Regions from separate parts of the Homo sapiens genome. Here regions 2 and 3 are each reported to be linked to region 1. The links are microRNA targets in miRTarBase. Many come from high-throughput screens and were not tested one by one. Region 1 holds a microRNA gene; each other region holds the end of a gene's coding sequence. Distances are between the middles of the regions.
The links. The annotated mature microRNA hsa-miR-4731-3p reads CACACAAGUGGCCCCCAACACU and lies in region 1 at 3,112-3,133, shown strand. An mRNA with a match to its seed (bases 2 to 7 or 8) in the 3' UTR can be bound and repressed. Matches are read on the target gene's strand: a 7mer-m8 pairs with bases 2 to 8, a 7mer-A1 pairs with bases 2 to 7 and ends in A, and an 8mer does both.

Region 1 (10,255 bases):
AGGCTGGTCTCGAACTCCCGACCTCAGGTGATCCACCTGCCTCAGCCTCCCAAAGTGCTGAGATTACAAGCGTGAGCCACCATGCCTGGCCATCTTATTATTATTTAATGAGTCCAGACCTCTCTTCTGAATCCCAGACCTGTTTATCCAGCTGTCTCCTGGCCACTTCCCTTGGGATATCTAAGAGAGGCCCCCAAGTCACTAGGCCAGAGACAGTCCTTATCTTCCTCTGCCAATTCAACCCCTCTGTCACTTTCTAGTATTTTAGTGAATGCTGCTTCACCAGCCAGCAAGCCAAACATCTAGAGTCTGCCTTGACTTGACGCGTTTCCTTCTTTCTCTTCTCAGCATTGTCACGGGTCCCTCAGGCCACCCCATTGTTCCAATGCCTGTTGCCCACCTGTGGTCACGCTGCTTCCTCGTTTGTCAGAGGCGCCAGGGCAGCCTCCTAACTAGTTTGCCTGAACCCTTTCTTGCTCCTCTGTGACTCATTTTTCATATGGAATCCAGGCTGATATTTAAAAAAGCACAAACCTAATTATATCACTCCTCATTTTGAAACCTTTCAGAGGCCGTTCATTGGTCTTAATCTTCAGATGAAAATCTTTAACAAGGCCCATCGGAATCTACCTGAATGATCCACTCCTGCTTCTGTTAAGTCTCACCTCCCATCTCTCTTCCCCTCATCTTGGAATTTCAGCGTTTTCTCACGTCCTGAAATGTGAACTTCCCACTTCGGGAGTCTCTCCATTTCTCTTCTGATCTTTCATGCAGGACTATTTCTTGAACAACTCTCGTGTACCAGAGACTATTGCAGGTGCTAAGGTTACAAGAGTGAACAAGAGCTTATGTTTTACTGGACAAACCAGTCAGTAAACATGGAGAATTTGGGGGCAATGGTAAGAACTATATAAGACAGGGTAATGGGATAAAGAGGGATTGCAGTGGTGAAGGAAGGTCTCCTTGAGGAGTGGCCAGGAGCCAGCCATATGAACATCTCGGGGAGGTTCCATACAGAAGGACCGTCAAGTGCAAGATCGCTGGGGAGGGAAGGAGCTTGGCGTAGTTGAGGGACAGAGGGCAGGGCAGACTAGTGGGAACAGAGAGTGAGGGGTAAGTAGAATCACAGACCATCTCAAAGGTACCCCCCACCCCCACTAGGAAGGAGTTGGGTGCACATGGATGCATTTCTAATCTTTGTGATTTCCTTAGACCTGCTGTCTTCCACGGGTTTCTCAGTGGTCCATTTGATTCCAAGTTGGAGTGACAGTCCAGAAGCCTCTATAAGGCAGAATATATCAGAAATTGTACAAGGTAGAAATGCATCGGTATATTTTCAGTGATTATTTTGGGTGACGGGATTCTTATCACTTTGGCTGTTTTCTTTCTTTTGCTGCCTTACCTGTTTTCCTCATTGAGATCTTTTATTTTCACAATCAGAAAATAACTGTGAACATTTTATGTTAGAAAATTGGTTTTGAGTAGTAAGTAGGTTCCCTCTGCCTTGATTAAGAGAGTGGAGCCCTGGGGCATGGCACGCAGGGTCCATGGCGTCGCTTTGAATGAGGCCAGTTCCTGGAGCTTTAGTTTGCAAACTCATACAATCTGGAAGGCTCTGGTGAGGGGGAGGGGTGTGCCAAGCCTCCTCCCCAAGACCCTATGGGTGAGTTTAAAATCTACTGACCCAAAGGATTCAGGCAAAACATTTGCCCTGCTATTGAATGAACCAGTGCTTTTTGTTTTGAAGTCTCCAAGATCCAAATATCAAGTCCAAGTTCTCACAAGCATTCCCCTGCTTTTTGTTTAATTTGTGTGGACCTGACGTGTAGCAGAATGGGTCAGAATACTGGAATTAAGCCACAGGCGGCTTGGGAGCCCAAGAGCTAGAAGGGCACAGTCCTGGCTTGCCCTGGCCCCTGGCTGGTCTTCATCAGCTTCAGTGATGAGGCAGGACCCAGGCAGTTTGTCTTCAGTAAAATCTGTCTCTCAGGGCCTGTCCCTGCTCACAAAGTCCTCTCTTGTCTCAGAAGAAAAGGTAGTTGATAAACTTTTTCATGCTGAGGTGTTAGGCACAAAAAATGTGCCCCTTTTTGAATCACTTTTGTTTTTAAAAAGGAGGCCAGTGCTCAACACCAAAGCATGAAGGGAATTGTTGAGCTTTCCTGTAATCTGTCCCCAAACGTCCTTGGCCACCTCCATTGTCTAAGGGCAGTACCTGCAGCCCCTCATTTCCCAGTGACAACAGGTGGGTCTGCTCTGCCACAGTGTGTGGGCGGGACCAGCACCAGACGCTGAGAAGATGACCACTTACTACTCTTCTTTTCCATTTAAACAGCAGCAGCAGCAGCAGCAGCAGCAGCAGCAGCAGCAACAGCAAACTCATGACTATCAATAGGTTGTGTGAGGAATTAGATCAATGCTTTGGGTTGAAAATTAGAGAAACTAAATCTTGCCAGTCTCAGCAGCCCCCAACCTGAGCCCTTGGTGGTCTCCTATCATCGCTGTCTTCAAAACGATCCCAGACTTGTTTATCAATTTGGTGACACTGTCATTTTGGCAAGGACACCAGACAATTTCCTTGTCTGTGGCTCAGCTTTTGGCCAGATTTTAGAAAACACGGGAGACCTTCTGCATTTATGGGTTCATGTTTTACATTTTAAAATCTTCGTGGCTCCCTCAGCCAACCCATAATCTCTACCCAAGGAATGGCTCTGGATTTTACAGGCTCTTATGAGATGCTGAGACCCTGGTGGTACAAGGGAGGTACAGAGGACGGAATGTGTTGTCAACATGCCAGGATTTCAACCCTTAGGGTTTCTCTGATGCCAATACCCAGGAATTAGTATGAAATGTTTGTTTGAACCTGTGTCTGAACTGTATGACCTGGAATCTATAGTCTTTGCTTTAAAAAAACTTCAATTGTATCCCCAAGATTTCACCAGCACCAAGAAAACATCCCTTGCATTTCAGGAGCAGGGACTGGCCATGGTGCAGCCTGAGGTTGTGGATGTTGATCTTTGGTGCCCGAGAGAAGGCTGTCTGGGATGAAGCCTTCTGACTGTGGTCAGGTCCCTGCCAGTGCTGGGGGCCACATGAGTGTGCAGTCATCCACACACAAGTGGCCCCCAACACTGGCAGGGACCCGGAGTCATCTGGCCCATCCCTCCTTCCTATCCCATCGAGCCACAGACCCCTCTGCAATATGCCTACCACATGTTCATCCTACCACTGATGGGGAACTTATTACCTTCAAGAGAGCCTCTTTTGTTTTTGAAGAGCTAATAGTGAGATCCATTCATGTGTTCTTCAACTCTATTGAGCCTGTCCTATGTACTGGGCACTGTTCTAGAAATGGGGTGCACAGAGATGAACAAGAAAGAGCAGGTCCCTGCCATTGTGCAGCTCACAAGGAGTTGGAGGAAACAGGCAATACACAATACATGCATCACTATGGGTAGTGGAACATGCTCTGCAGGAAACAAATAGGGTGATCCAATGGAAAGTCATCACTGGAGGAATGAGCTGCTCAGGGAAGGCCTCTTCCTTCCATAGTGATGTGGTCTGAGATTTAGAAGACAGGGAAGGACCAGTTATAGGAAGAACCATGGGAAGAAAATTCTAGGAGGTAAAGGGAAGAACCAAGGCCCTGAGTTAGCTGAAGAAAGGAGGGTGGGGAATGCGGGAGAGAGGGATGGGAGCAGGATCGCTGGTGCCTCACAGGCTGTGGTACTGAGAAGGACAGTTGGGACATCATTGAAGGGTTTTAAGCAGAAGAGTGTCATGATTTGATTCATGTTTTGTAAGCTCATTCTGGCTGTTGAGAATGAATTCTGGGGAGAGGCAAGAGTGGAAACTGGGGACCAGTGAGGAGTTTGTGGTCATAGTCCAGACTGGACATGATGATGACACTGAGATGACAATGATGACAATGACAATGATGTTAAGAATACAAACAGCTCACGTAAGTGCCAGGCATTCTTTGAAAAGCAATGCATTTAATCCTCACAAGAACTCTAGGAGGTAGCTGGTGGCTTAGCTAGGGAGGGGAAGTAGAGAAGAAAACAGGTCTCATGACAGGGTTTGCTGATGGGTTAGATGTAGGGAGTTAGGGAAGAATGATTCTAGATGACTCTACGTTTTGGGCTTGAGCAACTGGTGTGTAACTGAATCTTGGACTGAGATGGGGAGACTGGAGGAGGAACAGAAGATTTGCGGGAAGGTGTAGAAATCAGGATTTATATTTTGACCATCAGAGAGGTCAGCAAATCACTTCAATTTAGAAGTCTTTGGCTTAGGGGAGAGGTCTGGGCTGGAAATTCAAAGTCAAGAGTCATTCCTCTATACCGAAGGGTATTCAATGTTGTGGTGCTGAATACAGTTACTTGGGGAGGAGTTGAGAGCAGAAGGCAGAAAAGGGGAACAGGGTTCAGAGCTAAGTCTTGGGCATGCCAGGGGTTAACGAGGGTACAGGAAGGAGAGGAGACTGGGGATGAACAGCCAGTGATGAGGGAGGAATGCCAGGAGATATTGTCACTTAAGAAATTACCTCGGCTGGGCGCGGTGGCTCACGCCTATAATCCCAGCACTTTGGGAGGCTGAGGCGGGCGGATTACAAGGTCAGGAGATTGAGACCATCCTGGCTAACACGGTGAAACCCTGTCTCTACTAAAAATACAAAACAAAATTAGCCGGGCGTGGTGGCCGGTGCCTGTAGTCCCAGCTACTCGGGAGGCTGAGGCAGGAGAATGGCGTGAACCCGGGAGGCGGAGCTTGCAGTGAGCCGAGATCGCACCACTGCACGCCAGCCTGAGCGACAGAGTGAGACTCCGTCTCAAAAAAAGAAATTACCTTGTTAAACCCAACACTGCCCCTCTTTTGTCCATTCACTTCTAGTTGCCTTCATTCATGCCTGATGTGCTGGACTTGGGTTTTATCAAGTTGCTTGGCACGTCCTTAAAGAATTTAAATCTCCACAGTGCCTCCTGGACAATGACTGCAGGGTGACCCCCGTCTCTCCTCTACACGATGACTCTTCAAACAGTTGACGATTGCAGTTTTTCTTTCCTTCCTTCTTTCAGTGGCTTCTCTGGTGCTGGTCCCAGCTGCATAAGCAGGGCCTCTTCTTGCCCTTCTGAAGTTTGGTCAGTGGTTTGGCTTGGCAGGCTGATGAGCAGAGAATAAGGGAAGCCGCTCTCTCTTTGCCACACCATTCTCCTTCCACCCTCTCTAGTTTTTGTGGATTCTAAGTCTGAAGAATGGTGGTAGAATAATTTAATTCATTAGATTGCAAGCATATCATTGACTTCTCTGCACCCCCAGTGTGTTGTAGTGGAAAAACTAGTAGTCTGGGCATCAGGGAATCCTTGTTTTTCTGCACCGGGTCTGCCTGTAACAAATTAGGTAACCTGGGGCAGGTACCCTGGTTTCCTAAAAGCAGAGCAGGCATTGAGGTAGGACCTGAAGTTGAGGTAGGACCTGCACATTGCATGGGTCCCGGAGCCTCTGTTCATGTTCAGGATGTAATTGTGGCATCGAGGGATCCTAAAAGGAGGTGGCCTCTGAGCTGGGCCTTGGCAATGGGGTAGAATTGCAGTAGGCAGAGGGAGCAGAGATGGGTTTTGTGCTTGTAAACGGGCATTGGTTTACTGTCACTGGTGGGGGTAGCAGCTCTTTTGTTCTAGCTCTTCATTTCCATAATGCGTGTTCTTTTTTCATACTTTAGGGGAAAGAAGGAGGAGAACTCTATTATTTCTATGGGGAGAATTCCTCCTAAACCTGAAGATCTTAAAACTAAGCGAATTATTCCCTGTTCATTCTCCACTGATGCAGTTCATGACTGCAATTGCAACTGCCTTTCCCGTCATTTTCTATGGCCAAACTCAGTGTTTTTAAGTGAGCTCTTCTTTTAAAAAACAAAAACAAAAACAAGTCTCCTGATAAATCCGTTTGAAAGACACTAAGTTTTGAAAGTTAAGCAGGCTTTGATCATTCATGGTACATTGTGAATTACCAAGGAGGGAGATTGATATCCTTCATCGTACAATGCACTCCCCTCCTTTTTCTTTTGTATCTGGTGGAGTAAGTCTTCCAAGAGCAATTCTTAGAGAAACAAAGCCTACTCTGTTTCCCTGTTTCTAGAGTTTTCCAACAAGGGTATAAAAAAGCCTCAGACAGCTTACTATTATCCAGTAACCTCAGGTACCTCAGTGGCTGCGTGTTATTCCCTTTAGAAGTCCAAAAACTCACTAGCAGAGCAAGAATATGGATGTCAAAGTGCAGAACTAGACCCTGACAAACTAGCTCTGTGCCTGCCACAAAGCCTCTTAATTAGGAATGCAGTTCATTGAATAACTGTATCAAAGTTAGCTGGAATACCTTGACATGAAGATTCCTTCCACTTACTGAGCAGTTTGTGCCCACTAGTGGCCAGACACAGGCTTTGCTCTAGCTAAAATACCCCCAGGATTACCTGTTGAGAGAGCCGCCCACGTCACCTTCATCGCCTTTGTGAGCTCCATGCTGGCACATAGTTGTCTCCATCTGTTTTGCTTTCCGCATGAATCATAGGCAAAGTTAGCCTGACCAGCAAGCCCATTTCAAAGCCACCAGCTGGGGGAGAAGTTGAAGCCCAGGGGGCAAGACCCACGCTGGGCTTTGGGCATGTTTGAGCTGGTGGGCGAAGCATATGGGCAAAGGCCACATTGTTTAGGATGGAGGCCTTTCAGAGACTCAGCTATTTCTGGAATGACATTCATACTGAGAAATAAGGAAAATGGCGATCTGTGTGATGGTTGTGGGTTGGGAGGTTTGGGCGTGGGAGTCCTGGTCTTGGGGTCATGTGTTTTGAAAACAGTCTAGCACTATGCAAATGGGAGGTGTTAATAACTCTTTGCCTCTGTGATTTACCCTCTCATGGCTTTTTCTCTCTTGGCCTCTCCAAGGTCTCTTCTGACTCTTGCAACTGTCCTTCCTTTCACTTTCAACAAAACCTGTTCTCTTGAGTCAGAACAGTTTTATGAATTGCCCAGAGTGGGACTTGATATGGGGCAGGGTTGGTTCCATGCTGGTAATGAAAGATGCACATAAACTGTTACATTGAAAAGTGCTTCATACTTTCTGAGCCCTTAACTCACTAGGTTGTAGGCCCTGGGCTAAGAATATAGCTGAGGGGGCTGATGTATTTCCTTCATTGCTCAGCTGCTCCTACAGCAGGAATCTGACCTTGAAATGAGCTTTGATCTTTGTGCAACTCGAGCTTCCCACTATCTGCTGGGGGAGCTAGGTCTGGGTGCTGCCACGGCCCATGTCAGAAAGCTGTCAGCAGCTCTTATACCGGACACTCTCAGAACAGGAGGCCTGCAAAGAGCTTTAGCTTTAGTTTTGTTGTTGTTGTTGTTTTTGAGACAGTCTCGCTCTGTCGCCCAGGCTGGAGTGCAGTGGCGCCATCTCGGCTCACTGCAAGCTCCACCTCCCGGGTTCACACCATTCTCCTGCCTCAGCCTCCCAAGTAGTTGGGACTACAGGTGCCCGCCACCACGCCCAGCTAATTTTTTGTATTTTTAGTAGAGACGAGGTTTCACCGTGTTAGCCAGGATGGTCTCAATCTCCTGACCTCGTGATCCACCCGCCTTGGCCTCCCAAAGTGCTGGGATTACAGGTGTGAGCCACGGCGCCCGGCCTTTTTTTTTTTTTTTTTTTTGAGACGAGTCTTGCTCTGTTTCCAGGCTGGAGTGCAGTGGTGTGATCTCGGCTCACTGCAGTCTCCGCCTTCCGGGTTCAAGTGATTCTCCTGCTCCAGCCTCCCAAATAGCTGGGATTACAGGCACATGCCACCACACCCAGCTAATTTTTGTATTTTTAGTAGAGACGGGGTTTCACCATGTTGGCCAGTATGATCTCGATCTCCTGACCTTGTGATCCACCCGCTTTGGCCTCCCAAAGTGCTGGGATTACAGGCATGAGCCACCACGCCCGGCCAGAGCTTTAGTTTTTAATTCCAGTGCTCAGCACCAAGGTTGGATATTGGCTTAAAACTTCCACTGGAAACTCCACAAATGTTTAGCAGGCCTCCACTTTGCACCAGGAACTGAGTGTGGCCTGGAGGACAGCAGGTACTCAACATAAGTTCTACTATTTATTGCATACTTGCAAATTGGGTGGGGCGTGGGGAAGAGTATCGCCACACTGGGGCTTGTGTTAATCTATAGTTTAGCCACTTGGGATGTTGGTGTCACACTAGGTTTGATCTAAATAGAACAGGTTTGTAATTGACAGCATTTTCACTTGCATTATATTTCTCTGAACTCGAATCATTATTTTCTGTACAGCTGACTTGTTTTGCTGTAGCAGAGTTTGGCAGATAATAGCTTGCATGTCGAATCCAACCTGCTTTTGTAAATAAGATTTTATTGGATAAATGGCTATTGAAGGAATGGGTCACACCCACTCATTTACATCTTGTCCATGGCTATGGCTGATTTTGTGATACAAAGGCAGAATTGAGTAGTTGTTAAGAAGACCGTATGACCTGCAAAGCCTAAAGTATTTGCTCTCTGATTCTTTATAGATAGTTTGCTATCTGTGCAGATATTTGCACTCTGACTCTGTAGCACCCTTATGCTGGAGAGGAGATATGAATTGATACCAAAGTTGTATCAAAACACTTTTGGAGTTCTGGCCAATGTGCTAATAACCTGGCTTGTGTGAACATTGTGGCTCTCATTTTCTTTTTTCTTTTTTTTTTTTTTGAGACGAGTCTTGCTCTGTCGCCCAGGCTGGAGTGCAGTGGCGCAGTGGCGCGATCTCGGCTCACTGCAAGCTCCGCCTCCAGGGTTCACGCCATTCTCCTGCCTCAGCCTCCAGAGTAGCTGGGACTACAGGCGCCCGCCACCACGCCCGGCTAATTTTTTTTTTTTTGTATTTTTAGTAGAGACGGGTTTTCACTGTGTTAGCCAGCATGGTCTCGATCTCCTGACCTCGTGATCTGCCCTCCTGGGCCTCCCAAGTGCTGGGATTACAGGCGTGACCCACTGCGCCCGGCCTGTGGCTCCCATTTTCATACTGCTTGGTGTGACCCAGATGGAAATGCTCCAGAACCTGGCCCCTCAATAACAGCCTGTAAATGCTTGTTTACCCTGTTTTCTCACATCAGCCTTTTAGGTGGGGTTATTTGCACTATCCTTTAACAGCGCTTCAATAACAACTCTTTTGTTTGATCATTATGACAACCCAATAAAATATATTAGTGCCTCAAGTACGTAAAGCAGAATTCAAGGCCAAAAAAATGTATGTGGCAAGTTAGGTGGGCGGTCAGAAGAACTTGGCAACAGAGCCCAGCCCTGCCTGGGCTGTCCTAACCAGAGCACATAAATGCTGGAGAGAGTCAGGCTTTGCACGTGCTCACACGGGACCCTTACCTTGGACAGGATCAAAGCCCTGTCATTTCTGGAGTGTGTGATATCTGCTGTCTCTTACTGCGCTGGTTGTTACCTGTCTATTCCAGTTCTGATGAATGGCTCTGATTGGGGAGCAGCATCATCTGAGCTTAGAAATGTCCTCAGGGCCCTGTGGGGTTCCCTTTGAGCAACAACGAGAGCTCTTGAATCTTGCACCAGCCTTTTGGAGCTGGAATGGAGTTTGCTTTCTCCTGGGCTGGGCTCTGTTTTTTTTCCTCTCGCTGTCCTTGTGTAGCTTTTGATCAATGGCACTGGAGGAAAGGAAAATCCCTTGTTGTTTTCCTGGGCATGTGGAAGCCCAGTCCTGCCCAGAATTCCACTAGCCCTTTGAGTTTTGGAATCCTGACTCTTAGTAAGTCAATAGAGTGCTGCATCTGTTTTTACCTTTGTAATCTTTTAAATTGGTTTTAATTATTTAAGTAATACAAGTATTATAATACATGAAAATATCCTCAACTGAAAGGCTTCTTGACCAAACTCTTCTTCGTTGCAACAGTAGTTCCTGGGGGAACCCACTGACATCAATTTGACACAACTTTGGCTCTTTCTCTACGAATATTTGCATGCCTGTGGATGTCTATACGCAATTACATAGTTTTTTGGTGTTTGTTTTCATAATGATGACATGTTGTGTGTGCACCTTACTCTTTTCATTGTCTTGGAGACCTTTCAAAGACTCTTCATTTTCTAACTCATGATTTTTTTAACTGCTGCAAAATATTTCATTGTGAGGATATACCATAATTTATTTTCCCTCATAGAAATGCTACAATCAATGTCCTTATTTATTTTCCTCTGAG
Region 2 (10,255 bases), 66 Mb from region 1:
GTAATCCCAGCTACTCGGGAGGCTGAGGCAGGAGAATAGCTTGAACCCGGGAGACTGTCTCAAACAAACAAACAAAATAAATAAATAAAAATAAAAATAAATAAATAAATAAAAATACAAAAATTAGCCGGCGTGGTGGCAGGTGCCTGTAATCCCAGCTACTTGGGAGGCTGAGGCAAGAGAATTGCTTGAACCAGGGAGGCGGAGGTTGCAGTGAGCCAAGATCATACTACTGCCTTCCAACTTGGCAACAGAGCAAGACCCTGTCTCAAAAAAAAAAAAAAAAAAAAAAGAGGAAAAAGAAAGGAAGAAATTATACCAAATAGAACATTGTAAGCATTGTGGGGAAAAGGAGGGAAGAGGCTCAAGGTGGGAGGGAGAGTTCCAAGTTCAAGGTGGGCTTCAAAGAGGAGGCAGACATTGTAGAAGAGAGCACGGCCTTCCTGGCGGAGGACGGGGAGGCACCAAGGTCACCAGGCAAGAGGGTGTCTGACAATTCAGGGAGCAGCAGCGAGGTACAGGCTGGCGCAGGCGAAGGGGTGTAACAAGCAGCTCCGTCCTTGGGTCTTTGCAAGGAAACCAGTGAACTTGAAGCCGCCAGTTGCGTTTGGTCATCGGGTTGCGTGAACCTCTCCACCGGAGCCCTCCCCTCAGCCCCTTTCCCCCACTGGGGAACCAGGTTGTGTACTGTAGAGTGTCCCATGTTCCAGATGCGTGGGGTGCCCATGGGGCAGCATCACTCATGCCTGAGAACTGGAAGGTAGTTTAAAGGCTGATTAGATTCAGGCCGAGCGTTTGGGTAAGAATAGCTGGGATTACTGTAGAGCCTGTTGTGTAAACTGGATTGCTTTTGAGGAGGGAGAAGATGTTATTAATAGCCTTCCCAGGCCGTGGGGACACGCAGCCCCCTGCCCTCGGGTGGTGCTGGGTCTCCATGCGCCACGTCAGAAGCGCAGCGTGCCCGTCAGTCCCATGGCGGGTTGTCATTTTCTCGGCACACGTGCACTGCAGTGTGGCTGAGAAAGGAATGGCGCTGCTTTTATCTACAAAGCACTTTTGGTGTCGTTCTTTCCTGTCTCATAAGTTACGCTTTCTAAGCGAGAGGGGAGTAGAGTATTGAGGGAAGGACTGTGAAGCATGTTTTTATTTATTTATGAAACCGAGTCTCACTCTGTCACCCAGGCTGGAGTGCAATGGCGCGATCTCAGCCCCCGCCTCCCGGGTTCAAGCAATTCTCATGCCGCAGCCTCCCGAGTAGCTGGGATTACAGGCGCGCACCACTAGAGACAGGGTTTCACCATATTGGTCAGGCTGGTTTCAAACTTGACCTCAAGTGATCCACCCGCCTTGGCCTCCCAAAGCGCTAGGATGACAGGCGTGAGCCACCGGAGCCACCACTCCCGTCCGAGGCATGTTACAAAGAGTTATTGGGCAGACCTGCCTCTGACTAGCATGAGAGAAAAAGCACCAGCTGGACTCGCGAGGCCAAGGCAGGAGAATCGCTTGAACCCAGGAGGTGGAGGTTGCAGTGAGCTGAGGTCGCACCACTGCACTCCAGCCTGGATGACAGAGTGAGACTCCGTCTCAAAAAAAAGAGAAAAGAAAAGAAAAAGCACCAGCTGGTTAAGGATTGATGAGTTGGGAGACGTGACTTCCAACTCCAGGCTTCGCTGGGGCCTCCGCTGCACCTCCCTTTGGGGCTTTAGACTGGGGTGGCCCAGCAGTGGAGGCGTTAGCTCCCCCCAGCCCTTTGTCACCTGGCTCCCCTTCTTTCCTGCTCCCTAAGGCGGTGGAAGAAGATATCCCCATAGCGAAAGAACGGACACATTTCACCGTCCGCCTGACCGAGGCGAAGCCCGTGGACAAAGTGAAGCTGATCAAGGAAATCAAGAACTACATCCAAGGCATCAACCTCGTCCAGGTCTGTGCCGCGGTGGGGGTTCCGAGGCAGGTTCCGTTGTGGTGGCCAGGGCCCCCAGTCCCTGACTTTGCTCTCTCTGGCAGGCAAAGAAGCTGGTGGAGTCCCTGCCCCAGGAAATCAAAGCCAATGTCGCCAAAGCTGAGGCGGAGAAGATCAAGGCGGCCCTGGAGGCGGTGGGCGGCACCGTGGTTCTGGAGTAGCCTCCAGCTCGGAGGACTTGTGTTCAGGGGTCCTGGGCCCCGGGCGAGGTCCCGCCCTCCCGTGGTCACTGGCTCCGCCCCCAGCACCAGGCGCCCAGTGGAGCCGTTTGGGAGAATTGCCTGCGCCACGCAGCGGGGCCGGACAGGCCGCACAGACCTACTGTGGCGGGAGGGAGGGGCGGCTGCTGCCTGGTGACGGCACCCGGAGGCCCACCAGGACGCGCCACCGGTGAATGTGCCTCTGGTGGCTGCTGAGAAAAATACACTGTGCAGCTCAGTGTGTGGAGTGCCGTGCTCAGGCCGGGCTGCCGGGCCAGTGCGGGGATCCGGGCAGCGTGTGGAGTGCGGTGCTCAGGCCGAGCTGCGGGGCCAGTGCGGGGATCGAGGCTGGTACGGGATGGGAGGCTTGTTCCCTGCCTCCTCAGCAGACATCTGAGAGTCTACAGACATTCATCAGGTCCCCGGTGTGCAGGGCCCTGTCCTGAGACCCCACAGTGGGCCTGGTGGACGGCAGTGGTGTGGAGGACCTGGGCAGCGGGAACCCTCCCTGTTTTCAGTGTTGGCCCTCTTTAAGGCAACAGGAAGTTCAGCACTCGCCTGAGAAACCGAGGCAGCCTTGGAGCCGGCGATGCCACCCCTAGCTTAGGCTGCAAGTACCCCTGAACCTAAACCCGGCCACGGGGCTGCGCAGGGGGATTGGGGAGGGGTGTGGGATGCACCTGCCATCTGCAGGGTTGGGGTGTCAGCTGTTCCTCTGGGGCCCTTAAGTGGGGTATCCTGGGACCTGGGCAAAGCGGCAGGAGGGGCTTGTGGACATGGGGACCGGGAGTGCCGTGGTCAGCTTGGAGCACTGGTCACTGTGCACTTGGTGAGGTGTGGCCCAGTGCTGGGCAGCCCTTGGCAGCCACTCTCGGGCTGCAGACCCCTTGGTGCCACTGCTGAGTACAGGGGGTGTGGCCCCATGGCCTGGCTGGAACGGCCAGGGCCTTGCTTTGAGGACCCGTGGCCGCCTTTTCTTGGGCACGCCTGTTTTCAGCCAAGCCTGGGAGAGAATCAGCGAATTTCTGTCTCAGCTGGCCCGTGACCAAGGCCAGCCCCCAGGCTGTGGGCCCACAATGAGGCCAGAGACAGGCCATGTTCCGCACCTGCTTCGGGAAACATGCCTGGTGTGATGGCCCCGTAGGCTGCCATGCCCTCCAGCCTCAGTTTTCCTGGTGGAAGGATCCCTTGGATGGGACCAGAAAGGGGCACCGTGTGTCTGGAAGCTGCCCACTGGCTGGGACTCCTGGGGGAGCGGGAGGGGCAGGGAGTTTCAGGCTCACTGTGCGTGTACACCCTGCCTGGCCCAGGTCCTCTTCCAAGGCCTTCTGGTAGAGTTTCTCTGACTAACCTGCTGTCCCCAGGAAAGGCTGTCCCAAGCCAAGCCTGGAAGTCCCCATTGGCCATGGTATCCATTTTGAGGGGTTAATGGTCTTCCCTCAGGAGGTGACACTGCCACCTGGAGCTGGGTGCATTCTGCCTGGTGCCCTGCTGACCCCAACTGCCTTTCCCCTCTGGAAGGCAGCGAACATCTGAGCTCAGGGACGAGCCCTGCTTGAGGTCAGACAGACATGCTGTCTTCATCCAGGCTGCACCCAGGCCAGATAGACCAGCAAAATCTCTGCCCGCGACTCCTCGCTGTCTACCCTGGCTCAGGCGTCTGCCAGGCCACTCGCAGGAGCCACCGAGAGGCCCTTTCCTCCCTGCCGGGGGACCCCCAAAATAACCTGTGGATGCCAAGCAGCAGGACACTGCGGTGGATGCCAGGCCGCAGTCGGAGGCTGGACGGGGAGCCCTGTCCCGTGAGCTTGCTCAGTCTGCCCCAACCACCCCCTTGGGCCTACCGACATAACTTATGATCCGTTTGAGAATCCATCAGGGATCCTTGTGAGTCCCCGACCTGCAGTTCTAGATTCATCATTTGAAAAAGCCTCTGGCCCTGGATGCATTTCCTGTTTTCAGGATTCCTCGCCTTCTGACTGCTCTCCCAGCATCTCTAGCTCACGGAGTTCACAAACTTCAGTCCCCTACAGCTCCTTGCACTTTTGTTCTATTTTTTTTAATGTTTTATTTACTTATTTATGTATTTATTTTTATGAAACGGTGTCAGTTTGTCACCTGGGCTGGTGGTGCAGTCTTGGCTCACTGCAGCCTCCACCTGCCGGGTTCAAGCAATTGTCCTGCCTCACCTTCCCAAGAAGCTGGAATTACAGGCATGCACCACCACGCCCAGCTAATTTTGTATTTTTATTAGTAGAGATAGGGTTTCACCCTGTTGGCCAGGCTGGTCTTGAACCTTATTTTTATCTTTTTTAATTTTAATTTTTTTTGAGTGAGTTTTGCTCTTGTCACCCAGGCTGGAGTGCAATGGCACGATCTTGGCTCACTGCAACCTCCACCTCCCAGGTTCAAGCGATTCTCCTGCCTTAGCCTCCCTAGTAGCTGGGATTACAGGCGCCCGCCACAACACCCAGCTAATTTTTGTATTTTTAGTAGAGGCAGCGTTTCACCACGTTGGCCAGGATGGTCTCGAATTCCTAACCCCAGGTGATCACCCACCTCGGCCTCCCAAAGTGCTGGGATTACAGGTGTGAGCCACCACACCTGGCCTATTTTTATTTTTTAATATAGACACGATCTCACTCTGTCACCCGAGCTGGAGTGCAGTGGCCTGATCAAGGCTCACTGCAGCCTCAGCCTCCTGTGCACAAGCAATCGTCCTACCTCATCCTCCCAGGTAGCTGGGACTATAGGCACGTGCCATCATGCCTGGCTAATCTTTTGATTTTTTTTAGAGATGTGGTCTCACTGTGTTGCGCAGGCTGGTCTGAAACGCCTGGCCTCAAGAGATCCTCCTACCTTGGCCTCCCAAAGTGCTGGGATTACAGGTGAGAGCTGCCCTGCCCAGCCTTTTTTGTTCTTTGTAAAGCTCTTCAGTTCCTGCTCCTTACCCGCTGGGCCCTGCTCTTTCTGCTTTGGAGCAGTTCTTCCTTCAGCAGGGAGCCAGTGTTCTGTGGGTTGGGGGGTCTCTGCCAGCAGCCAGTTTCAGCCCTGTCTTGCAGGTGGCCTTCGGAGGGACAGGTTGCAGCCCAGGCCCGCCCCCCTCCTTCCTGGAGTGTCTCACAGACTCAGGGGACACTGGCCCTCCAGGCCCTGCTTCCCCCAAGGTTTCCATCCATCGCCTCTTGATTCTTGGTAATCGGGAGCCGATGGATGCAACTCATCTCGGTTTACACTGAGTGAGACAGGCGCTGTGGGCACAGCCAAGTCTGCGGGACTCAGTCAGGTGTGAGCCTGGATGGCCCCGGACAAGGAAGCCTGTCCTCTTGCTGGGAAATTTCCGTTAAGATCGGGCCACTTCCCCTGCTTCCTAACGGTTGAGTCTGTTTGCTCTGGGCCTTTTAAGCCCAGCGTGATCCCTCTGAGTCCCTGCGGTGCATTTGCGCCATCTCCACGCTTCCTGTTGAGCCCCAGCCCAGGCTTGGTGCGGGCAGTGCTGCACTGCACTCTCCTGGTTGCCTCCTGAGCACCTCCACCCGCTTCCCCACCAGGCGTGGCTGTGTTTTCACCCCCAGTGTCCATCTGGCACCCTTCTCGATTGCCAGGTAGTTACGGTCTGTGTGGGCAACACCTGAGGGACCCAACCAAACCAAGGTCCAGGACACACTTCCGGGCAGGGGTACCGCCTCTGGTTAGCTGCTCACTCCCCAGCCCAAATCTTCCGCTGATGACTTCTGGGGTCAGAGGCCACCTAAGGGTCTAGAAAACAGTCTCCTCCAGTTGGCTACCTGCCTACGTTGGGGTTACGGCCCAATAAACCCACAGCCAAGCTGAAAATCCTAAGTGTGCGTCTTGCGCTTCCGACACAGCCAGGGCATCGCTGGATGCGCAGAGGCAGGGCTGGACACATTCTGGTGCTTGAGGGGTTCCAGGGACCACGAGTTGTTTTTCCGGTGCTCCTCACCCTTCGCCCTGGAGGGTGGGGGAGGCCGGACAGCAGTGACCAAGCTGGAGCTGCAGGTCTTCATCCCTGTGGCCCAGCCCTAAAGCAGCCTTGGGGACTTAAATTTCATTTTGCCCAGCAGGTGCACCTGGGCCAGGAACACACCAGCGCCTCCTTGTTCTTCGCAGGGAAGTGGAATCCAAGCAGGGGCCCAGATGCAGGCAGGCATCTCCTGGGAACAAGAGCCCCAGAATCCACCCCGGGGCCCCACTTCCAGGGTGGTTGCCTGGGGCGTCTGGTCAGAGCCAGACCAGAACTGAGCAGGAGCTTCCGGGCATCTGTGTGTGGGAAGGGAGAGGCAAGTCCTTCCTAACCGCCTTTTTTCCCAGTTTTCATTCAGTCTGGCCCCAAGCAGGTTCTTTTTTTCTTTTCTTTTTCTTTTTTTTTTTTTTTTTTTTGAGATGGAGTCTCGCTCTGTCGCCCAGGCTGGAGTGCAGTGGCGCGATCTCAGCTCACTGCAACCTCTGCCTCCCGGATTCAAGCGATTCTACTGCCTCAGCTTCCTGAGTAACTGGGATTACAGGCGTGAGCCACCGCGCCCGGCTCCCGAAGCCGGTTTTCTGTTCTCTTGCAGCTGGGCCGGGGCTGAGCCCTCGGTGGGGGCAGGGGTTGCAGACCTGTGGACGCAGGGCCCACGCCGCACACACGTGGCCCCCGCCAGGTGACTCACGAGCCAGCGCCTGCGCGGCGGGGTGGCCACCGGGTGCAGGTTCAGGGCCAGGGGCCGGGCCTCCTGGGGATTGGCAGGGCGCCCGCCGCGGTCCCATGTGCCTGGGGCCGGTCCCCGGGCGGTGGCCTTCGGCCCTGCGCTCCGGCCTGGAGAAGGGAGGACGCCAGGGGCCCGGGGGAGTGGAGGCGGCCACGCAGCAGCCCCGGAGCACCCGCGCGTCCGCAGGCCGGGCCCACCGCGCTCGGCGCCCCTCGCGGCCGCTTTAAGGCGCCGGGCCCGCCTCAATCGCAGGGGGCGTGGCCTAGCGGTCCCGCCCCCGGGGCGCGCGCGCGCATTGGCTGTGCGGGGTGCGGGCGCGCGGGCGGCGCTTTGAACCGGGCGCGGGGCGCGGGGCGCGGGGCGCTGCGGCCGGTACACGCCGGGGTAGGGCCGGGGTCGGGTTGTGGTCGGGCCGGGATTGGGCTCTCCTGGGCCATGGCAGCCGAGGCGCGCGTGTCGCGCTGGTACTTCGGGGGGCTGGCCTCCTGCGGGGCCGCCTGCTGCACGCACCCGCTGGACCTGCTCAAGGTGAGGCCGGGGCCCGGGACGCGGGGCGGATGGGACCCTGGCGCCGCCGAGACGCCTGCAAAGGCAGCAGCCCGGCCCCACGCACCCGGGGATCGCCGCGCCCGGGGCTCCCTCCTGGAGAGCGCGAGGAGGCCCCCGACGCCCGGATGGCCGATCCCGGGTGGCCCTCCAGTGGTGGCCGCCGAGCTCGAGGCCTGCAGGGCGCAGCCGCGCTCCCCAGCTTCCCAGCCGGCTTCCCAGTTCTCGGCAGGTGGCGATCCAGCCCCAGCTCTACACTTTAATACCTGGTGACCTTGGGGGAGTCACTTGGCCTCTCTGAGCCACCCACCCCCATACATTCAAGAACGCTCCTTCCGCCTAGTTAGAAGTTGTGGGGGGAGTTCTGTGAGGTGCACAGGTGTTGGCATCTAGAGACGTGCTGGCTGTAGCATACCCAGGGTGTGGGCCAAGCCGCCCCCCACCCAGGGGTGTTTAGCACACCGCCGGACGTGTCCCTGGGCAAGTGGGGTGACCCGATGCCCCGGCTTTGGGCTGCTTCCTTCGGAGAGCTGCGTGGGCACTGGAAGCGATGTTAGGACCAGCACACCCCCAGGAGAGATGCCAGGAGACCCTGCACGCGTGTGGTCCTGGCCCTATGAAAGCGGGCGTTTCTCAGCACGAGAAGCAGCCACCGTTTTTTTACTTTTTTTTTTTTTTTAATGCTTATGGGGCAAAATAAGACAGAGCTCTCCTTGTTTCCCAGGGACAGCCAAGGGGCGTTGTTTTCTGACCGTGTCTTGCCACAGAGAACAAAGAAGAAAGGGCCTGAGGCTTTGCACAGTCTGCCCAGCAGGCCCTGCCCTGTGAACCTGGCTGTGGTCACTGGGCAGCCGCCTGTCTAGGGGACCTTTATTTTAGCAGCCTGTCCAGGGGACTTGTATTCCAGCAGCCTTTGAGGGGACTGGCTTTACTAATGAGCAACAATGCTGGTCGCTGCGTGAAGGCCAGGTGAGCAGATGTGGGCGTCTTGGGGCACCTGAGACCTCACTGGTCCTGGGAGAGGCCTTCAGAGCTCCCAGGCCACAGGCAGCCACGGCCAGTGAGATGCAGCCACAGCGACAGGAAGGCGCTGGCATGGGCAGAAGAAGCGAGCCCCTCCTTGGCATCGGGCTCTTCCTTTCCTCCTGGGCGCCGCACAGGTGCCCCTCCCCCAGGGCCTCTCCCACGTTCATCTGGGTGTTGAAGGCGGGACCTGCGTGCTGCTGTCCCTTGTCCGGGGTCTGAGCCCCACTGCCCCTTGGCCCTCCCCAACCAGGCGCTCTCTGGCTGCAGAACACCGCCTGGGGGAGGCGGGACTGCCCTCTGGCCTGGGAGGGCGGGAGGAGCCAGCTGCTGGCAGCATATGGCGCTGTGGTCAGGGTGTGCTCCTGAGGACTGCTCACCAGGCCTCTCTGCCTGGCCGTCGGAAAGATCTTTTAAAGCTTCTTGAGCACTTTGTCCCATGTCCCTACAGTCCCTACCGTCGCATCTGGCCGGGACGGGGGCTGCTACCTGTGTGGCCCAGTCCCTCTGTTCTGCTGGGCTCGCACAATGGGAGGCCCCTCTCTGTCCCCACCCATCTTTGCCGACCCCTGGGCGTGCGTTACGGGGCCGCGCACGTGCAGGTCACACTGAGCGGCGGAAGGACTTCTTTGGGGTCAGTGCTGGGGGTGGGACCCAGGAGCTGGGATCCTGGGCCAGGTGCTGGCCTTCCTGTCTGGCCCTGGCCAATCCCCCTACTGCCGGGAGCTCTCAGCTGGCCAGGCGAGGAGGCAGAGGTCCTGTGAGTGGTGGAGGCCAACAGAATGGGAGGTTGTCGGGCTGACAGCCCCCGAGTGCCTGCCCACAGCTCCTAGGTGCTTTGCAGAGGAGGCCGCTATGCCCTGCCGCCAGCCACACCGTCCCCTTGTCTGCTGCTGAGCTCCTGCTGCCTTTCAAGGCCTTCTATGGCTACCTCCTCAGTCTCCCATGGTCCTGCAGGCTCCCTCGCCGTTTCTGAGCGGCCATAAACGTTTGTCCCTCTTGAGACGTGGTGTGGTGGATAAAAAGTAGGGCTCTGGGGTCTCCTCGCTGGGCCCAAATCCTGATGGCACCAGCGGGTGCGTTACCTCTCCATGCCTCAGTTTCCTCATCTGCAGAAGGAGAATGGCGAGCCCCTGCGGCCAGTGCAGCCAATACTCAGGTGGTACGCGGGGCGCTCGCGGGGCTCGCGGACACTCTCAGCTCCATGTCCACTGGTGTGGTTGCTGTTGGAAAGCAGTGGTGTGAGCTGGTTCCAGGCACGGGTGTGGAGTCCCCGGGCAGGGCCGTGGGAGGCCTTATCACTGCCTCCTGCCTCAGTTTCCCCCTCTCTGGATGAACCTGGCACCGATCCCTCGGGGTCGCTGTGGGGTCTGAGAGCACTCACTCCCGCAGGTGCATCTGCAGACGCAGCAGGAGGTGAAGCTGCGCATGACGGGCATGGCGCTGCGGGTGGTGCGTACCGACGGCATCCTGGCACTCTACAGCGGCCTGAGCGCCTCGCTGTGCAGACAGGTGCGTGGTGTGTGCCAGCCTTGGGCTCCCAGACTGGGGCTGAGTCCTGCAGTGGCATCCAAGCTACTTCCGTCCCCTTTTCAAGACTTTGTGCAAGGAAGGACCCACCAGGCCGAGAGCTGGTGACCCCAGGGTGCGCCTCCCATGGGCACCCACCCAGTTTGCAGGGCTGGGCCTGAGACCGCCACTTACTGGTGGGGAAGCTGAGGCCCAGGGAGTGAGAAAGCAGGGTGCAGCTCTAGATTTGTGAACTGGCTCAGCCGCATGCTGGCACAGTGGCCTTGGGAAGGCCCCTCAGGGTC
Region 3 (10,255 bases), not on the chromosome of region 1:
ATCTTTCCTGAGTAAAGTTAAAGCATGTTGATAAAAGTGTGGATAATTGTACAGGTGTATCCCGACTTTGGAAAATGAGTGTAACTTCTATAAACAATTTAGCCAAAGAAATAGGCTCAGTTCCCCCATCTCATGATAATCACTCCCTTTTATTTGATAAGTCACGTCAGCTTTGTCTGGAGTAGCTTCAGAGGACACATAAAAATAAAGGGGAAAGATTTAAAAATAAGGGTCATTTGAGTAATTCCCCTTTCAGAAAATTTGTTGAACTGTTAATTAATCTCACTTTGTAAGCTAACATAAAATCTTTGTGAAATTTTAACCAAATCTGGTTCTTTACTGATAACCATATGCATGCTAGTCCATGCATGATCCTATTTATTAATTTATCAAGATAATAAACTCACATCATTACTCTGCTCAGTCAAGAACCAGATATTGTGGTGGGAGATGCATATGGAGGATTTTAATACCTTAAAGCAAGAAGACTAAACAGGAGAAAGGATGATTTTAATATCTGCTGCTTGAGTAGCAATATTTTCATTACTTTGTGTACTCATCCTCATTTTCACAGAAGCCACATAAAATTTTTGATGTGGCGCTTTTTTTCTGGTATGTTAGGATTAATAAATTTTTTTCTGGGCTGGGCATGGTGGCTTATGCCTGTAATCCAAGCACTTTGGGAGGCCGAGGTGGGTGGATCACGAGGTCAGGAGTTCAAGACCAGCCTGGCCAAGATGGTGAAACCCCGTCTCTACTAAAAATATAAAAATTAGCTGGGCATGGTGGCGGGTGCCTGTAATCCCAGCTACTATGGAAGGCTGAGGCAGAGAATTGCTTGAACCCAGCAGGAGGAGGTTGCAGTGAGCCAAGGTCACGCCACTGCACTCCGGCCTAGGCGACAGAGTGAGACTCCGTCTCAAAATTATAATAACAATAATAAATAAATAAATAAAATGTTTCTGGTATGTTAGGATTAATAAAAACTGGCAGGTATGCTGTAGTTATTCTTAGAAGTCATTATACTAAGTTTCTTTTTCTTTCATTGTAGAATCACAGAAATGAACATTTTTATTTGGGTGTTCAGCCAAAAAGTGATGGGTACTAATTTGGGGGAGAATCCATTTAAATTTTTTTTTATTTGTACAACCAATATGGCATTTATGGAAATTGCTGCTGGTGATGTTCTACTCATGGTTATTTACAGTTGGTTACACAAGTGCTTGTTTACATTCACTTCTTTATGTGGATGTTCTGTCTTATCTAACTTTTGGTGCACATTTTGAAATACCAAATATATATCAGGACTCTTAATTACAGGACATTCTTTCCCAGCTCTGCCTCCAAGGATAAGAACCCCTTATTTACCTCCTGTTAGACAAAGTGTCTTCTGGCTCTTGGATTCTGTGGTCTTAGCAAGCGGCCTGAGTTTCAGTTATTCCATAGTGCTTGCCCAGCGACTTGCCACATGGCTTGGGGGGCTCAGTAAATATTTGCTGATGTAAACTGTTTACCAAGTACTAACAGACATTTTGGTAGTAATGTTCCTTTTTCCACAAGACACGTCTGCTTATAGTGTTTGTGTTTTTCATGCGGCTCTGGCAGTTGCACATAGGAAAGGAGATGAAAGGTAAGACATTCTATCCTTATTCCTCTATTACTTGGTCCCTGAAATGGGCACTTCCGGATGATCTCCCCATGTTTCCTGTCTTACTTGAAAGCATATATAAAAAGTTGGATTTATTTGCTATCACTGATCATGGGGCATCTCCTGTTTTTTACCTCCAGGGGACCAATGAGAATAGGGAAAATTCTCCTGCTGGTAGAGCCCAGCCTGTCCCATGTGAGACTCACTCTGACCCATCTAGAAACCAGCCATCCCCTGACGCAGCAGCATCTCAGACGCAGACCAGCCCCGCTCACCCCAGTGTGGACCCGTGCACAGAGGAGAGTGAAGAGCAGCAGGCTCAGCTGGCCGCGGGAGGACACTGAGGGCATCCTGCTCATCTCACACCCTGCATGGAATCAGGCTCCTCAGCCAGGACACAGGGTGAGGCCCCCCAGCCAGGATATGCCTCCCCTGGAGGAGCACAGCACTGCATATGCTTCTAAATATCTAAACTCATTAACATGGAAACACACACACAGGAGCTACAGTACATATTGGCAGGAAAAGGTAAACTTTCGTAATCTCATTGGAATTACAACAGGGAAATGGAGTTCAATGAGGACTTTCAGTTCTTTGCTTGGTTAGGTTAAGGATGATAGAATTTCTCTGCCAGTGCAGTAAGAGTTGAAACCGGCAGTTACACTAAGTAAGTGGAGGGAATGAAAGTGTTTCGAGGTGAATGTGGATATAATTTCCCTCTTCTGATTATTTATTCTTATTTGGTTCCTAACACAAACTGGGAAGAGATAGAATTCATCTATACTTTCTTTTTTCTTGGAGAGAACCGTTTAAAAAATTACAAGATATATTTAAAAAGTAACCAGATAAAAGTAGCACATGTGCTTTTGTTAAAAATAAAGTTAAAAGTTAAAGTTAAAAAATGAAGTTAAAAGTTTCATCAGAAACTTTACATATCTTTAGCAAATATATTTTTATATGTGTATGGCATATAATGGAAATAATTCTTTGAGCAACAGAAGCTATTATTAACTACTGCAAGCTAAGCCGAGCTTAAAAATGCCTTTTGTTTTAAATGGGCTTTGAGAAAAAAAACAGAAACAAGCGATTATTTCAAATCAACCAACCAACTCAGTATCCTGTGTTTTGATAGACAAGAGTTTACTAAATATATTGATACTGTAAATAGCCTCTCTCGCTATTTACTATCTTATAGTAATTCAGGCTCTAATTAGCTGAGGGAATGAAACACACAAAAATCACTGAATTCCTAAGAGTTCCTTAAATAAGCAGTACTAGTTACAAATCACAGTATAAGATTTAAGTGCCTGGGGGAAGGATACAATTTTTAGAAATTACATATTGGGTCAGTTTTGTTTTGTTTTTGGTGAGGAAAAGGTGGTAAATAGGAAACCATGAATGGGAAGGATGGCAATAAGTAGCAACTATACTTTCCAATGACTAAAGAAAGAAAATCTCAGTATATTCGTTCTCATGAAGACACAGTCAGACACTGGACAATGTAATGTATGCAACTGCAAACGTTACAACTGCAGCCAGAACAATGGCTGGGTGGATCGCACGTAAAGCTTGCCACTAAAAATCAAAGCAGAGGTTAACAGGAAACCTGGGGGGAGTGTGGAAAAGGGAAAACTGTTTTAGCTGAATAAAGGTGAATTATATAATTTATAATAGCTGTGGATGAGCACAGGAGAGAGAGGAAAGAAAAGAACAGTCGAAATGAGCAACTCACCTTACCCTCTGACCCTGATTAGACAGGATCAATTGTAAAGTGAGGGCTTCTCCATGACACCATAGTTCTGCCCAATACTGCATTTGGGATAAGAAATTCTACACTTGGATGTCTCGCTTCACAATAAAACACAGCTTAAAAATAAAATAACTGAAAGAAATAGAATTCAGCAAATAGTTATTTTTTGCACTTGAACTGAAACGTACTGTACTGTAAATTATGACTCATTTTAAGTGACCTTTAAAATCAGATGTATTTATTATGCTTGTGTAATTATAGAAATAAAGAAATGGGTGACAGGCTTAACCTCACCTATGAATGTACAGTATGTGGATTTGTGAAACTGACTGTAGGAAGTCAAAAACTTGTACTGTATCTTGTGTTTACAGTTCTGATTTATTCCTTTGAAAAGCCTGCTGTTTTGGAAATGCACAGTTGACATGTTGAAATAAAAATGAATACCATTTTTAAATGTTTCTTAAATGATAAAGATGTGACCAAACAAAAGTCCTATACTCTAATGAATGAGACCAAATTCAACATGCCTTTGTTATGGAACATTTACTGTGACAGCAGAATCGATAATGCAGTCATTTCCAGCCTTGTGAGCTGACACCTTCATGGGTTTGTGGACTTTGTGACTTTTTCTTCCTGTCCCCAAAGTGCCATATGCTACCTTAAAAAATATTAAAGTGAATTCAAATTACATTTTGATTTGAGATTTTGTAACCCCTCTTGAGATCCCTCAACACACACAGGGGTGTCACAGAGCCCAGGCTGGTAATCACTGCCTTAATGACTTACTTCCTACTCTTTCTCCTATGGTTGTAGAAACAGTAAATTACCGAGTGCTGAGCTTGTGTGGATCCAAAGTGGTTAACTGCTAATTATTGAACTATTCCTCAAGTTTTAGGAATAGATTATAATACATACATTGTCCAGCAGGCAGTAAACCTCATGAAAAGTGTTAAGGAATTCACAGGAAGAGCAACCCTGCTTTACTGGCTTATTAATCCTGCCATGGGTCACATGAAGTGGATAGCTGGCTAATAGCTTCCCTCTAATTGGCAATTCCTTCCAGTACTGCTGAGGTACTGAGACCATTACTTAGGCAATATTCCTCTCTGCCAATTTGGAGTTCAGCAGGGAATCTAGGAAAAGGGAACCACATCCGTGGATATTGGGTGCTTGTAGTGTGCTGATGAGATTATCATTTTGCCCTTAACAAAAACTGGAGGTGTTCCTATCACTATCCCCATTTTAAACAAGAGAATTCTGAAGCTAACAGTTTAAGTTATGAGATCAAGGTCACAAAGCCAGGATTCAAACTCAAATCTTCCTAATGTCAAAGCCCTGGTCCGCTTAGCACCTTACCCCACCCCAGGAGGCAGGGAGGCCATTCCCTGCATCTGTTATGGCAGAGGAAGCCATAAAGCAGCCCAGCCTGAACCATTACCATACATGCCTGATATGTGTATGTGTGTGGTTGTATTTCCATTTAGGATTTCTAGATATTCCTAGATTCCTAGAAATGCTTCAAATTCCTGATGCTTTGTGAAATGTAGGTACACCAGACCCTTTACACTCTGCAGGTGAGTTGGCTGGACTGATAACTGCACAGGAAACCCAGAGGTTGGTAGGGACTCTGGCCAGGGCCATGGAAATCAGGAAGGGAAAGCAGACACACCCACAGCTCTGTACTGTCCGGTAGGACTTACTGGGAAGATGGGAAGTTCTCTATTTACACTGTCCAGGATGGTAACCATAAGCCATATGTGGCTATTAAACAACTGACATGTGGCTAATTTTCTGGGGAATTAGGTTTCTAATTAATTTTAAATAGCCACACGTGGCTCAAGGCTACCATACTGGACAGCACGGGTATACAGGAAGAGATCCTTTCGGGAGATCTCTGGGCCTGTTTCCTCAGCTTCAGTGTGAGAGGTTAGAGCTTAAGGTTATGTTGATTCTATGAAAATGAAGGTATGCTTTGACAGTGACTGTAGGGAAGAAAGAGGTGATTTTCCATTTGGAAGTTCTTCAGCCCTTTGGAGCATGGAGACAAGACAAAGGCTACTTCTGAAGCCCCAAACCACTCCTGGGCTTGTTTAGCAAAGCCTTGAGAATATCTGGCTTAAGAATTCCAAACCATGGGGCAGTTGGGAGAGAGGCTGGTGCCTAGGTGGGGACAGAAAAGGGGTGAAAGGGGGAGTGGTTTGTCAGATCTCAGAAAGTAATTTACACTATGCCAGGACAAACTGTGGCTTCTTATAAGGGAGTAACTGGAAACTTGCTGATGTCTAACATGGGGGGAAAGTGAGCCAGTCCGGCTAAGTGCCAGTCCAGCTGTGTACCTAACTCTCAACCAGCTGCCATCTGCTTCAAGCAGCTAATATAGGACCACTTGTCCCCCACTGTGGCTCCAGGAAAGTCCCAGTTTTTAGATGGCAACCCAAGGACCTTACAATGTTGGGGTTAGGAGTGTGCGCCCTGGAGTCACACTGTTTGCATTTGAGTCCCAGCTCTGCCAGTGAGAACTTACACACACATAGAACATCTCTGGGCCTCAGGACCCACCTCTGTAAAACGGAAGTGATTACAGTAGGTATGTAACAGGTTGATGTTTAAAATGAGTTATCTGACATACAGTGTGTGCTCCATAAATACTGCCATTGTTGTGCAGCAAAGAGCCCGGGGCAGGAGGAGCGCTGTCTCATTTCCCCAACCAGGGTCTAGTTCTATTATTTTATTGCCATTTAAATCTATAATCATATTCCATTCTCCCAATCTACAGTGCCATACTATACATATTTACCTATATCTAGTAAGCTGTACAGTAAGGCATTCAATTCCAACATGCATTGTAAACATTAAGTGGTTGGGGATATGAGTTAGTTAAGAGACAAAATTAAGCAAAACTTAAGTTGAAGAGGATGGAAAAAAGTGATGATGGTGACAATTCCATAAAGTGCAAAAGTCTGCTGAGAGAGGTTATAAGTTTCATAATTTTCATTTTTCTTTTTCTTCTTAAAGGTGTCAACAAAAGTAAACAATTTTATAATCATTTAACAAATTATATACCATACTCTCTCCAATAGTCAGTGTAGGATGCTATTCTTTTAAATTGTAAACTTACATTTGAAAAAAGGTCGGATTTTTTTTGTTTCCTGAAAAGATCACTGGCATCTTAGAAAAATAACATGTAGACCAGTGCTACTCAAAGTGTGCTCAATGACTGGTGCTGTCAAACTACTGCTGGTATGTGACAACATAGAAATTAGACATTTCAAAATATGTATGGCAAGTTGACATTGTCATGACATGATCATCGTGCTTATATTCTGTATGTCTTTTCTTTCAAAGATTATTTCATTTTTCTAATAATTTAGTGTATCTTACAAAAGTATTACTAGTGATGAACTAGAGGGAAACTGGTCCATCACCCCAGACAGTCTGAGAAGCACTGACAAGAGCCGCAGACTACAGTGTCCATTGCTGCGGGGCACAAATGACTGGTATGTGTATAACATCAGCAGATGTAGTCACCTCTTGAATGCCTTATCCATGGGGTCATTTCCTTCACTTTCTTAAAAAGATGGTAATAAATAAAGGAAGTAGAATATGAGCCCTGGAAGCAGACATATGGGGGCTTGAATTCTGATTCTACCACTTTAGCTATATGTGTCCTTCAGCAACTTTCTCCTACCTTCTCTGGGTCTTTCCTCATCTGTAAAATGAAAATACCAAAACATATCACAGAGTGGTCATGAGGTGCAAATTAAGAGGTATCGAAGGTGCCTCATATAGTGCCTGATGGATCTCTAGTCAATGTTGGTATTCTTTCCCTTTCTCTTTTCAATCAGTCTTTCTTTTTTGGAAAAACGACCAAATCTAAAAAAACAGATGCCTCAAATTATTTAAATAATAGAGAAGCTACCCACTAACTGTATCTTCCAAGATTTATATTAGATAAGTATAGTATTCATTTCAAATCTCTGGTGACCTATTAAGGTTTCACATTCAGGGATCATAACAAAAAAAATACAGTTACCTTTAAAAGATAATCCAACTCCTAGGCCAGAGAAAGACTAAAGATTTTAACACATCTGAGTAAAAATATGCCCATCAGAGGGGGTGGGATGTTTGTCAATAATGAAGATTAGAAAAACAGCAGTCACAGAGAGGAAAAAGTTGGCAGGACCTGCATAAAGGAAGGCGTGGTCTTTGTCAACAGACCTGGTATCTCATCCCATTAACAAGGCTAGCCCCACTGGGGTGGGGGGTGGCATCTGCATCAAACTCTTTGGCCTCATGACATTAACCATGTGAATTATATAACAAGCTCCCTTTGTTTTGTTTCAGTTCACCAAGTAGCCACCTTATTATAATTTGACCCCTTGTAAATCTGTCTTCTGAGAGAGAATCTGCTGGTCATATCAAGTCAAGTGTTTTTATCCTTATGCTAGTTATATTTTTGGTTGTGAATCACTACCTGTACCAACTATATGAATTGACTAACAAGAGACAGGTCTTATGGTGCAATAACAAAAAGCAGGGTTCTAAGTCAATAAGGCTAACAGTCACACCCAAATAGTTCACTCTTCAATGTCATGCCACCCAGCAGGCTCTCTCAGAAGGCAGCTTGCTCCTGTTGTCACCTAAAAGTACCTCTCTGTCTTCCTGCAGGTGTCTTCAAACTTCCACATCCATTATGTTGTCTATCTTGCTTTCAGTTGGACAAGAAAAGCTAATTTATAAAATTGTACATCTCTCACTCTGGGAAACAATCACACATAGCATAATGTAAGAGAGCATTTCTTTAGTTGACATCATTTCAGGATCTTAATTCCTCCACATATTTAGATATTTTTATGTAATCCATCATCTATTCCAAACCCTCTTAAAATCTAAATATATGAAATTTCCAGATTTTTTTAAAAAGTCATAAATTGAAATATTGTCCTTCATGTCAGATGGACATTCCCCTGTAATTCAGCCCTAGGTATTACTGGCAAACCATACAACTAATTCACAAAGCATTTTTTGTGATATGTAAAATGTGTTTTAAAACCTTTTAAAAATAACACTTGAATGATACGATTGTTTAAGCATAGCCACCTACACTATATCTCACCCACACATCTGGTGTCAAAGAGTTCAACTTGCTAACAACAGTAAGCTTTTGTAGGCACCAAGCATAAGCAGTAAAATAACAAAGGGATCTGTTAGGCTCCATAATTATACACCTATGGTGTGTGAGGCACAAAGCCAACTTCCAACCACCTGTGAAGGGCAGAGCCATTTTATTGAGTGGTCGTTTAAACTGTTCAAAGGCCTTTAAAAAGGGAGGAGGAGAGGAGACAGGAGGTGAGGGAGAAAGAGAAGGGAAGGGAGGAAAGAAAGGAGGGAAACATTTCTTGGAAGAGTTATCTGTACATTGCTTGATGGGGATTAGAATTGTGATCAGTACTATAATACACCCCCAAATCAAATGAAAACAACATAAATACACTAAAAATATCACAAGTAATGCTTCTAATTGTTTAGCTTCTCACAGTAGTCACAAAGCAGAAACTGACAAACCTATGATTTCCTCTAAAAATAAACATGGAAAACAATATCCTCAAGGACTGCTGTTGTTCTTCTCTCTTTGGCTGTTTTTACTGTGATGGTTACACCTGGCTAGCTGCCCATGAAGAGCTGCTTCCTTCCCTCAGCAGTACCTCTTCCCCCTGGCCCAGCGGCTGTCCTGGCTGGGATGTACCTGGCAGCCCCAGCAGATTGTTCATGTGTTATTTACTCATACGCATACGTTGTAGCACACAAACTGCTTCTTAGGAGACGAACTTGGTGAGCACAGGCACTGATACATCTGATACATTTATATCACCAATAAATATAATTTAAAAAAACAGATTAAACCATAAGAAAAATATTCAAACTTCTATTTACTCATAAAATAGTTACCATAAATCTGAATGGAAAATATATCCTTTGGTTTTTTAAAAATCCAAGTCTATATAAAGGCAGATTAACTTTAGTGGATATTACAAAAAAAAAAGTTCCCAGTATGAAAAGATGTCTGGCAAAAACAGACCTGTAAATACTTCAAAGAGGAACTATCATTTGAAAATCAATCTAGGAAGTTCCAGATGGATAGTCATGCTCTTTTTTCATGATTTAGAAAAACTACTTAATTTGGCTCAGGAAAGCAGCAGTGCCAAAATTCTGTCTATCCTTCGCCCATAACCTTTGTCCTGATAAAAAGATTATTTTTATGATCCCATCACAGGAAAAAAAGCCTGATTTTGATTCTCAGAATCAACTTAGCAACATCTTAACCCTGAGATTGTCTTGCCATGTTCAAATCTTTCCTCAGATCTATGTTTTGGCCTTCTTTCCTCAGGGTCAAAGCTCATAGCCCCTCATTTCAATCTGGAGTTTAATATCATGAATCAAGAAAAAAAATCATTTTATAAGAAATTGTTACAAACACCTATAGCTAAACAATTTTTTAAATGGATCAGTCAATTCAAAATATCACAAGAGCTTAAGTGCCTTCAATTTCAAAATACAAAAAAAGTAATCATAGTATCTAATCCTTACGTATGTATATAAAAATCTTACGTATGTATAAAAAACTTTAAAATGTCTTCAGAAACATTTCCCTTTATCACAGTTAAATAGCAAGTTGGCCATTATTGAAAAATAAAAAGTAAAGCCACCAACATTGTGAGGCCCATGGCTGTAGGGAGATGGCTCCTAAGCTTGCACCTGAAGATCTTGTCTACCTGAGTCAAAGGATACATCAGGGCTGGATTTCTACCAGTGCTGCATCTCAGTGTGGTCTTGCACAAGTTATTTAACCTCTCATG

Region 2: miRTarBase lists MRPL12 as a target of hsa-miR-4731-3p. Seed matches in the 3' UTR shown: 7mer-m8 at 2,138-2,144.
Region 3: miRTarBase lists MFSD6 as a target of hsa-miR-4731-3p. Seed matches in the 3' UTR shown: 8mer at 3,645-3,652 and 7mer-m8 at 3,757-3,763.

What each region holds. Positions count from the first base shown.
Region 1 is chr17:15,244,512-15,254,766 of GRCh38, reverse strand. It overlaps MIR4731 (microRNA 4731), which reads left to right and starts at 3,071; the gene lies at 3,071-3,140. The region is part of intron 3 of PMP22 (peripheral myelin protein 22); the gene reads left to right.
Region 2 is chr17:81,705,120-81,715,374 of GRCh38, forward strand. MRPL12 (mitochondrial ribosomal protein L12) reads left to right here. Exons shown (of 5, transcript NM_002949.4): 4 at 1,787-1,921; 5 at 2,005-2,398. The coding sequence ends at 2,121. SLC25A10 (solute carrier family 25 member 10) reads left to right here and starts at 7,165. Exons shown (of 11, transcript NM_012140.5): 1 at 7,165-7,400; 2 at 9,834-9,953. The coding sequence starts at 7,308. RefSeq lists silencers at 2,323-2,452, 5,440-5,734, 6,807-7,476, 7,487-7,596, 7,607-7,656 and enhancers at 5,062-5,762, 5,440-5,734, 5,937-6,206.
Region 3 is chr2:190,498,227-190,508,481 of GRCh38, forward strand. It overlaps MFSD6 (major facilitator superfamily domain containing 6), which reads left to right. Exons shown (of 8, transcript NM_017694.4): 8 at 1,789-4,088. The coding sequence ends at 1,992. It overlaps NEMP2 (nuclear envelope integral membrane protein 2), which reads right to left. Exons shown (of 9, transcript NM_001142645.2): 9 at 6,112-10,255. Among named protein-coding and RNA genes, the nearest start is that of NEMP2, 31 kb to the right of the region's middle.